Regions from separate parts of the Homo sapiens genome. Here region 2 is linked to region 1. The links come from fine-mapping of genetic effects on gene expression. A gene starts in region 1. The other region holds a variant in brackets. All regions are shown on one strand. Distances are from middle to middle. Region 1 holds the start of PRR29 (proline rich 29). Region 2 has its middle 11 kb from the start of ICAM2.

Region 1 (5,376 bases):
TTGCAGTGTGCCGAGATTGCATCACTATACTCCAGCCTAGGTGACAGAGAGAGACTCCGTCTCAAAAAAAAGAAAAAGAAAAGAAAAGAAAAAAAGAATGGGTTGTGTTTATTGAGCGTTTACTACATGCGGACAACAAATTGTGGAGACATTTACTCCTGTAGCTCAAGGACGTTGAGCAACTTGGCCACCCAGTTGATTCCAGGTGTGACCCCCAGAGCTGGGGCCAGGAGTCCACTGAGCTGTCCCCGGCCTCACCCCCGGCCCCTGGACCCACCTATGTGTCATCACTGAGGACCCAGGGGTGAGGGGTGGCAGTAGCTCCTCAGGGTCTCCTTCTGTCTGGATTCCTTGAACCCCTCTCCGCCTCCTCCGAGCTGAACAACATTCTCTCTCCACCCAGTCCCTGCTTCTCCTGACCTCAGGATGCCCACTATTGGCTGAGTAAGGCTCAGCCTTAGAGCTATATGCACATGCATGCACACACACGCTTGCACACACCCCCACTTGCACACACTTGCTTGCACGCACACACTTGCTTGCACGCACACACTTGCCTTCACAACCCGCTCGCACACACGTGCACGCACACCCTTGCACACGCACGTGAACACACACTTGCACACACATATGCATGTACACAGCCTTGCACACACACACGCATGCACACAGACACCCACTTGCACACACATACACACACACACTCTTGCACACACACACTGCCGCACACGGTTTCCCCCATTCTGTCTCCTGACTCTGCCCCTGCCAGCCTGGATGGGGGACACACCCTTCGCCTCCTCCAAGGGTCAAAATCCTACCTGGCTTTCAAGGGCTGGTTCTAAGATCCTCTGCTCCTCCAAGGAGCCTGTCCCCATCCCCCAACCCTATGTGCACTTGTGCTTTGTACCTCTCCATGTGCCATCACAGCCAACCTGGCTTTGTATCCCTAACCATTCATTTATTCATTCACTCGTTCAACAAATATCAGCTGAGCCCCTACACGGTGTCAGGCACCAGGCCAGACGCTCATGATGCATGGGGCAGGGTTACCAGGGTGCCTACCTTCCTGGAGCCTTAAGTCCAGTGGGGGAGGCACTACAGGGAAACCTCCTTGAAAACAAGACCTCGGTGGTCTGGACTTTGGGGGGTCTCTTCCCCGCCCCAACCTTTCATGGAGGCTGAAACATGACAGATGCCAAACAGCCCCAGCCAGAGAGACGGGCTGGCTTCCTGCTCCTCTGTCTCCCAGTTCTTTTCCCCCCTGAACAGGAACCCCAGGTGGATCCGCATCCCTGGACCCACAGGTGAGCGACCCCGGCGGCCCACCCACACGCACCTGAGGGCAGGGCGAGGCAGGCCGGGGCTGCAGCGCTCCAGCCACCAGGCGACTCAGCAGCAGCTGGTGCATCTGCGCGTTCTGCAGCATCATCAGTTCCAGCAGGTCTAGGAAGCGGGGTTCAGCAAGCCCACGCCGGGCCTCCGAGTCCCCCTCCCCCTGACACCCCTGTCCCGGGGGTGAAGAATGGGTTGGCGGGTTGTGCTGCGGGGACTCCCAGAGGATGTGCGAGGCAGAAGAGGGTGAGTGGTGGTGATGGTGGGGGTGGGGTGGGGGGACCCGGGAGTCTCACCTTCCTTCACGCGGCCTGGCTGCGGGGGCGCAGGTGGGACGGCCCACGAGAGGGGCTGCAGGAAGGTGACCCAGGGCTGGGGGTGTGCGCGGAGTCAGCCAGGTGGGGTGGGGGGAATGGATGGGGACACGTCGCGAGCCCCAACCCCCCCGGCCAGTGGCCTCCCTAACCCCGCAGGGGCCAGGTTCTCTCCTCCCCGCCCCGCGGCCTCCCTGCTCCCTGCCACGCCTCTTCCTCTCGGTTTGGGGCTGTCTCTCCTCGTCCCCCACCCCTCCAGGATCTGGCCCCTCCAGGGACAGCTCCCCACTCTGCCGTCTCCCAAGCTAAGGCAGGATCTGCTCCCGGGCTCAGCCCTCACCGTCGGGACTGCGCTCTGCGGTGGGGAGCGACCCCAGCTTCCGCCCGCCCCAGAGGCCATGGCTGGCGCCGGTTGCCTTGGCGACGCCGAGGACGCCAAGGTCTCTTCCCACGCATGCGCGGAGCCCGCCCGTGCTCCTGGGTCTTCCATCTCCCTGCTCCCTCCTGTCTCCTCCTCCGCGGACTTGGGGTCCCCAGGAGCCCTCCCCCGCCACCAGGAGGCCAGTCTCCTCCCCGGCATGTCCACCTCCCGCCGCGCTGCTCGGGGCTCCCCTCCCCTCCCCTTGCTGGTTCCCAGAACTGGGCCTGGGTTAGTGCGGGGAAGGGGGGTGTGTTTGTTGAGTGAATAAGCGAGTGACTGGGGAGGCTTGGTTTCGGGGTCCCAGAGCCCGATTGACTCAGCTGAAAAGTTCAGGAGAAACAGAGACTTTTGCAGGAGCAGGCTGGGGGCTAGGGCAGACGAGTGAGGAGGACAAAGGGTCTGTTCCCTGTCACTCTGACAGAGAGAGGGGCTTCCTGCCAGGAAAGAGTGGTTTCTGGAGCAGACCAAGGAAGGAAACACCGCCCGAATTCACGGAAGAGGCTGAGGACTCTGGCTGGAAACACGTGGCCGGCTTCTCGCCTCTCTCCTTGCGGCTATTTGCCCTGTTTCCTGGCCAAGGTGAGCCACTGCTCCTCAGACGAGGAAAATCGTGGTGACTTCAGCACCCGCGTCCCCAGTACTGTCTCCCGTACTGGAAAAGTTACCAAAGCACGCGTTCTTTTGACAGGAAGTTAGCAAGGTCTTCCTTGCTTAAGAACAGGTGAAGGGGGAGATCTATTTCTGCAGCTGTGACCATCCTAAGATAGGCCCCCGGCAGCAGTCAAGGAAAATCCAGACAGGAAGCTGGGCTTAGCACCCCGAGTAGCCCTTCCCCCACTCTCCATGTCAGCTCCCCTTCCTGCCAGTCCTGGAGTAAGAACCAGAAAGACCATTCCCACCTCCTCCTTTGCTCCGTAGTACCTGTCTCTAGGGGAGCAGGCTTGTGGGCATTACTTTACTGTCCCCATGGGTCTTATGGCTTCAACAGCCATTAACAAGCTGAGATCCAGGCACTGGGGTCACAGCCCCCCAGTGAGTAGAACACAGAGATGCCTCTCTCCATCTCCATTCTCATTCCAGGTAGAAAGAGAACAAGCCATTTTGCTCATCATCAACAAACCTTGACCAAGGAAGTGTCTGCGTGTGCAATGTGCCATCTGAACCCTGGAGGCATAAGCAGTATGGTCACTTGTCCCAGCATTGTTGGGAAGTGAAAATGTATCCATGGAAAGAGAGCAGAAAGATAAGACTACGCCCCGGGGATAATGAAAAAGAGAGGACTTGACCGCTGAGGGATGGAGTTCCAAGGAAGTCAGTCCTTGATGGGGCCAAGCAGCAGGGGAAGACGGGCGCTATCAGGCTGGGGACAGAGCCCAAGCCAAGACCCAGGTGTATGAATGGACAGGACCTGAGATGACCCGGTGGGTCAAACTGTCTGACTGTAGAAGAGGAGCTGGGCAGAGAGCAGAGGTCCAGGGACAGGCCAAGGTTTGGAATGCCAAGGTTTGGAATTTAGGCTTGGCCCTGTGGGTAATGGAGAGCTATCAGTGGGTTTCAAGCAAAAGGGAGATACCAAGTGCTGTGGCCAGCCATGTTTCAGGAAGATTGTTCTTGTCCACCTTTGTTTATGTCAACCACATTTAGAAGTAACAAATGTCTGATAGGGGGTCAGGTGCGGTGGCTTGTGCCTATAGTGCCAGCTACTCAGGAGGCTGAGGCAGGAGGATCGCTCAAGCCCAGGGATTCAAGGATGCTGTGAGCTACGATCACGTCACTGCACTCCAGCCTGGGAAACAGGGTGAGACCCAGTTTCTAAAACAAACGAACAAACAAATGTCTGATGGGGATGCATCCTCCCAATAGAATACTATTCAACCATGGATAATGTGGGAATAGAATATCTCTGTTGATGTGAAAAGTTGTCCAAGACAGTTGAGTCAAAAATATCAGTAAGCATAGTAAGATCTTATTTTTGTTTTAAAAATCATATGCATAAGTCCAGGCACGGTGGCTCACGCCTGTAATCCCAGCAGTTTGGGAGGCCAAGGCAGGCAGATCACTTGAGGTCAGGAGTTCGGGACCAGCCTGGCCAACATGGTGAAACCCTGTCTCTACTAAAAATACAAAAATTAGCCGGGAGTGGTGGCGGGTGCCTGCAATCCCAGACACTCAGGAGGCTGAGGCAGGAGAATCGCTTGAACCTGGGAGGTGGAGGTTGCAGTGAGCCGAGATCATGCCACTGCACTTCAGCCTGGGCAACAGAGACTCCATCTAAAAAAAAAAAAAATTCATATGCATATACATGTGTGTATGTACATGTGTGTGTGTGTGAATACACATACACACACACACACAGATCCAACTGTGGAGCAGCTGTCAGAGTTGGCCGACCCGCAGCCTCCCCTAGAGTCTTCTGCAGAGGGTTCCTGCCCTCACCTACAGCCCCTCCACCTGAGGACACCTGGCCACAGGTAAGACAGGCCAGAAGGTGGCACAGGAGCAGCCCACAAGCAATAATGGATGGGAGTTGATAGCTAAACTCGCAGCCTCCTGGTCTCAGTGCGACAACTCTGAGGTGTCTCCCACAGAGCCTCTCAGTGATGCCTGTGGGCTTGTGCCCAGGTGGCCCACAGTGACCTGCTCAGAAACACACACTTTACTGCCTTTTCTCCTCTCCCTGTCCCTTCTCCACTCTCTCGTAGTGCTCATTTGGATCTCCTTCCAAAGAAACGACTGCTCCCCAAGCCTGTGTCAGGGTCTGCTTTTGGGGGATCCCAACGAAGACATCAGCCTCCTACTCGCTCCACATCTGCCTCCAGGCTACTGAAAACTCCTGGAAAAGGGACTTAAGTAGCTCTATGATACATCTGCATTCAGAGATGTGAAATACTGAAATAGACATTGAAGAAAATGAGTTTGGGTGTACAATGGTCAATAGATTCAACTGAAGCAAGGCTGGAGGCAGGGGGCCCAGCAAAGAGGCTGCCACACTTGTCCCTCTAAGGAAGCCTGCAGTGGGCTAGAGGTGGCCGTAGAAAACAGTCAGGAGGAGGTGATCATTCCAATCCCTCAGAGGTAAAAGGGCATGTTAACCGCTTGTGTTTTGAAAAACAAGGCTGAGATCAAAACTATCTGACTTATGGTATTCCATTCGATGTATTTGTCAAAAGAAACGGAAGCATTTGCCATGAAGAAAGGAAAGCCACACACTTATCTGCCTGAGCTATTTTGCTCATAGAAGATCTCACATCAGCGCAGCAGAATAGGAGATGACTTACTTTCCTGCTATTTGACTTGCCTGCTATTATT
Region 2 (5,376 bases), 34 kb before region 1:
ACGTGGGAATTGAACAATGAGAACACATGGACACAGGAAGGGGAGCATCACACACACCGGGGACTGTTGTGGGGTGGGGGGAGGGGGAAGGGATAGCATTAGGAGATATAACTAATGCTAAATGATGAGTTAATGGGTGCAGCACACCAACATGGCACATGTATACATATGTAACTAACCTGTACATTGTGCACATGTACCCTAAAACTTAAAGTATAATAATAATAAAATTAAAAAAAAAAAAGAAGTCCAAAACGATAAAAGGTGAAATGCCTCCCTCTCCCCTCCCTGGCCCCTTCTGGTAAATCCACCACCGAAGTAGACTGTCTCCTTTGGATTCTAGGGTATCCTTACAGTCGTTGTTTAAGCAAACATGACTTCATATTCTTTCTCCCACTTTTTTATGCACATACTATGCACACTAGTCTGAATCTTGCTTTTTTTTCTTCTCTTTAGCAATATTTCTTTTTAAAAGTTAAGCTATAAAGCTGAGTACAGTGGCACACACCTGTAGTCCCAGGTACTTGAGAGGATGAGGTAGGAGGTTCACTTGAGCCCAGAAGTTCAAGGCCAGCCTGGGCAACATAGTGAAACCCTGTCTCTTAAAAAAAAAAATGAAAGATTAGGAGGCTGGGCCGGGAGGATAACTTGAGCCCAGGAGTTCAAGACCAGTCTGGACAACATGAAAAAAACCCACCTCTACCAAAAACAAAAACAAAAACAAAAAAAACAGAAATTAGCCAGGCATGGTACACACACCTGTAGTCCCAGCTACTCAGAAGGCTGAGGCGGGAGGATCACTTGAGCCTAGGTAAATTGAGATTGCACCACTATACTCCAGCCTGGGCAACAAAGCCAGACTCTGTCTCCAAAAAAAAAAATGAAAGAAAAATTAAGATATAATTTACATATAGTAAAATGCATAGATCTTAAATGTGCAACTTGGTGATTTTTACATACATTATAAAAACCAGTATAACCACCTCCCAGATCTAGACATGGAGCATTTCCACCTCCCCAGAAGGTCCTCTTTTGCCCCTTTCAGTCCAAACACACCTCTCCATTCCCCAGGGGGTAACCACCCCTCTGGCTTCCATCACCATAGATTAGATCCATCTCCTCTTACTCTTCATAGAAATGGAAGCATGCAATATGTTCTCTTTGTGTCTGACTTCTTTGACTCAATATTGTTTCAGATCATCCCTGTTGTTGGGTATATTAGTTATTTGTTCTTTGTTGTGTAGCATTTCATTGTATGAATACGCCATACTTTACCTGTTGGTGGACATTTGAATTATCAGTTTTAGCTATTATGAATAAGGTGATTATGAACATTCTTGTATATACTTTTTTTTTTTTTTTTTTGGAGACGGAGTCTCGGTCTGTTGCCCAGGCTGGAGTGCAGTGGCTCGATCTCAGCTCACTGCAACCTCCACCTCCTGGGTTCAAGTGATTCTCCTGCCTCAGCCTCCTAAGTAGCTTGGATTACAGGCACATGCCACCATGCCCGGCTAATTTTTTGTAGTTTTAGTAGAGACGGGATTTCACCATGTTGGTCAGGTTGGTCTCGAACCCCTGACCTCATGATCTTCCCACCTTGGCCTCCCAAAGTGCTGGGATTACAGGCATGTGCCACCACACCTGGCCATATATATCTTTTTATTATATACTTTAGCAATATTCTTGAAGATCCTTCCATATCAGCATATAGGTGCTAATATTTTTTCACATCGTCTAGTATCCCTTTGTATGAATATATAATAACTTACTCACCCATCCCTTAGTGATAGAGGTTTAGGTTGTTTTCAGTCTTTAGATATTACAAACGATGGGTCAATACTAGGTCCAGTGGTTCATGCCTGTAATCCTAGTACTTTGGGAGGCTGAGGCAGGTGAATCGCTTGAGCCTAGGAGTTTGAGACCAGTCAGGGCAACATGGCAAAACCTTGTCTTTACAAAAAATAAAAAAAATTAGCCAAGCATGGTGGCAGGTGCCTATAGTCCCAACTACTCTAGAGGCTGAGGTGGGAGGATCACCTGAGCTTGGGAGGTCAAGGCTGTGGTGAGCCATGATCATGCCACTGCACTCCAGCCTGGGTGACAGAGTGAGACCCTGTCATCCCCGTTTCTGCCCCACAAAAAGATTTTACAGACAATGGGGCAATGAATGGTCTGGACCTAATGTCTGTCATTTTGCACATGTTGCAATTCTATCTGCAGGATAAATTTTTAGAAGTGACGTTACAGTTATCTTTTGTTGCAAAGTGATAAATTACTCCAATATGTAGTAAAACAAACAAACAAACAAACAAACAAAACAGCTTGAAATAGCAATCATTTGTTTGCCTACAACTCTGTAGGTGGTTGGGTGGCTCTTTCAGTCAGGGCCAGCTCAGCAGGAGGTGGATGGTCTAGGATGGCCTTGCTCATCTATCTGAGTCGTGACTTGTCTCTGCTCCACGCGGTCACTCATCCTTCCGTGGGCTTGCCTGGGCTTCTTCACAGACCACAGCATTCCAAGAGAGCACAGCCAAAGGCTCAGAGCCTTTGGAGGCCTAGGCTCTGGAACTTGTCAGTGGCATTTCTGATGACTTTGTTGATCTACACAAGTCACAAGCCCAGGCCAGATTCAAGGAGTAGAGAAATAGACTCCATCTCTTGATGGAAAAGAGCTTCAAAGAATTTGTGGTCATTTGCGGTGTATCACACTCACTTTGAAATATGGATTATGTTATAAAACAGTTATTCCAGGTTTTCTTACAGATTTCTAAGGTTTCTTTTCTTTTCTTTCTTTTTTTTTTTTTTTTTACATTTTGGCTTTTGGACCTTTTAGAATCTATCCTGGTATATGGTGTGAAGTATAGGTCTAGCCTTATTTTTTTCTACATAATTTACTGAATAGTCCATGACTTCCCCCATTTATTTTGAGATGTCACCCCTATCACATTATTAAACTATGATGTGTATTTAGGCCTATTCCTGAAATTTAT[A/G]TTCTGTTCTAATTATCCCTGTCTATTCACGCACTGGTCTCATACTATTTTATTATTGAAGGTTTATAAATTCATATTGGGTTTTTAAAAAGAACTCATTTATATGCTGTTTACAAGAAATAGCAAAAGCAAAATACTGTGGTGAAGCAGACAGTGCCAGTTATTCACCCAAGATTCATCCTCCCCTCTTACTAATGGAGACCCTATTTTTTTTAGGGAAGCAACGTGCTCATTTTAAAAGGCTGAACTCCCCAGACTCTCTTGCAGCTGGTGGTGTCCATGGAACCCAGTTCCAGGCACTAAGATGTAAGTGGAATTCTGCTGGGTGCAGCTTCATAGCAAGCTCTCATTTTTCTGCTAAAAAGGACTGTTCCATCTGCATGTCTCTGTGTCCTTTACCCTTGTTACCTTTTCCTGTCTGGAATGCTGTCACCGACATGGAGGTACAGTAGCTCTCTCTCAACCAGGAGGTCTAAGTTATGCCCTAAATACAGAGGAGCATTGGCTGGGCACTGTGGCTCATACCTGTAATCCCAGCACTTTCAGAGGCCGAGGCAGGCAGATCACAAGGTCAGGAGATCAAGGCCATCCTGGCTAACACGGTGAAACCCCATCTCTACTAAAAATACAAAAAGTTAGCTGGGCATGGTGGCAGGTGCCTGTAGTCCCAGCTACTCAGGAGGCTGAGGCAGGAGAATTGCTTGAGCCCAGGAGGTGGAGGTTGCAGTGAGCTGAGATTGCTCCACTGCACTCCAGCCTGGGCAACAGAGCGAGACTCCGCCTAAAAAAAAAAAAAGGCTGGGCGCGGTGGCTCATGCCTGTAATCCCAGCATTTTGGGAGGCCAAGGCGGTCAGATCACGAGGTCAGGAGATCAAGGCCATCCTGGACAACGTGGTGAAACCCCATCTCTACTAAAATACAAAAAATTAGCCGGGCGTGGTGGTGCATGCCTGTAGTCCCAGCTACTCAGGAGGCTGAGGCAGGGGAATCTCTTGAACCCAGGAGGCAGAGGTTGCAATGAGCTGAGATCGCACCACTGCACTCCAGCCTGACAACAGAGCAAGACCCCGTCTCAAAAAAAAAAAAAAAAAAAAAAAAGAAAAGAAAAAAATACAGAGGAGCAAATGGTAGAATGGTAGAAGAAGCCCAGTTGGTTGATGCGTCTTTGATGTTCACCTCTTCTGGACCACAGCCTTCAGACTTCTTGTGTGAGAAAAAAATCTTACTGACGGAGCTGCATTAGTTTGTTTCTACTACATGAAGTGAAACCAATTCCCAATCAATGCACACGGGAAAGCTGAAAATAAAGACATAGGACCTGGGCGCAGTGGCTCACACCTGTAATCCCAGCACTTTGGGAGGCCAAGGTGGGTGGATTGCTTGAGCCCAGGAGTTCAAGATCAGCCTAGGCAACATGGTGAGACTCCCATCTCTACAAAAAAAAAAAATACAAAAATTAGCTGGGCATGGTGGTGTGTGCCTGTAGTCCCAGCTACTCTGGAGGCCGAGGTGGGAGGATTGCTTAAGCCAAGAGGTGGAGGCTGCAGTAAGCCGTGATCGGGCCACTGCACTCCAGCCTGGGTGACAGAGTGAGACCCTGTCTCAAAAAAAAAAAAAAGAAAAAAGAAAACACACACACACACACACACACACACACAAACCATAGAAAGAGAGACGGAAAAGCTCAACACTGTTCAACACTGTAAAGATGTCATATGTGACCTCAATAAAAATCTGAATAGGTTTCTTGTAGAATTGCATAAAGAACAGTAACCAATGACTAGGAGAGCTCTGAAAAAGAATAATATTAGGGCATTATCCTTCCAAATGCTATAATATTATAATTAAGACAGCATGGGCCGGACACGATGGTTCACACCTGTAATCCCAGCACTTTGGGAGGCCAAGGCGGGTGGATTTGCTTGAGCCCAGGAGTTCAAGACCAGCCTGGGCAACACAGGGAGACCTTGTCTCTACAAAAAAATACAAAAATTAGCTGGTGTGGTGGTGTGCACCTGTAGTCCCAGCTGCTTGGGAGGTTGAGGTTGAGGTTACGTGAGCCTGGGGAGGCCTAGGCTGCTGTGAGCCATGATGGTGCCACTGCACTCCAGCCTGGGCAACAGAGTGAGACCCTGTCTCAAAATTTTTTTTTTTTTTAAATAAATACATAGAAAAAGATGTAGCAAACAAATATTAACAAAATGCTGGTTTAGCAATACCAATCAGATTCTATAGAATTCAGACAAGATCAGGCATGTTCAGAGTGCTATGGCTGGCTATAGACAGAATTCAAAAAGAAAAGGATTGAATGGGACAGAAAAAGATATTTCATTTTTATCAAAAAAAATAACTGAATAGAACATATAAGGCACGAATCCTTAGACA

What was found. PIP is the estimated chance that this variant, and not a neighbour inherited with it, causes the effect.
Region 2: its variant is the best candidate, but not a certain one, in a credible set for the expression of PRR29 in tibial artery (GTEx, PIP 0.76).

What each region holds. Positions count from the first base shown.
Region 1 is chr17:63,995,035-64,000,410 of GRCh38, reverse strand. It overlaps PRR29 (proline rich 29), which reads right to left and starts at 2,060. Exons shown (of 6, transcript NM_001164257.2): 1 at 1,987-2,060; 2 at 1,629-1,704; 3 at 1,337-1,443. The coding sequence starts at 2,046. It overlaps PRR29-AS1 (PRR29 antisense RNA 1), which reads left to right and starts at 512. Exons shown (of 3, transcript NR_126169.1): 1 at 512-2,086; 2 at 2,489-2,646; 3 at 3,148-4,340. RefSeq lists an enhancer at 897-1,874 and a silencer at 2,128-2,177.
Region 2 is chr17:64,029,378-64,034,753 of GRCh38, reverse strand. No RefSeq gene overlaps it. Among named protein-coding and RNA genes, the nearest start is that of ICAM2, 11 kb to the right of the region's middle. The variant A/G (reference allele first, on the strand shown) is at 2,991.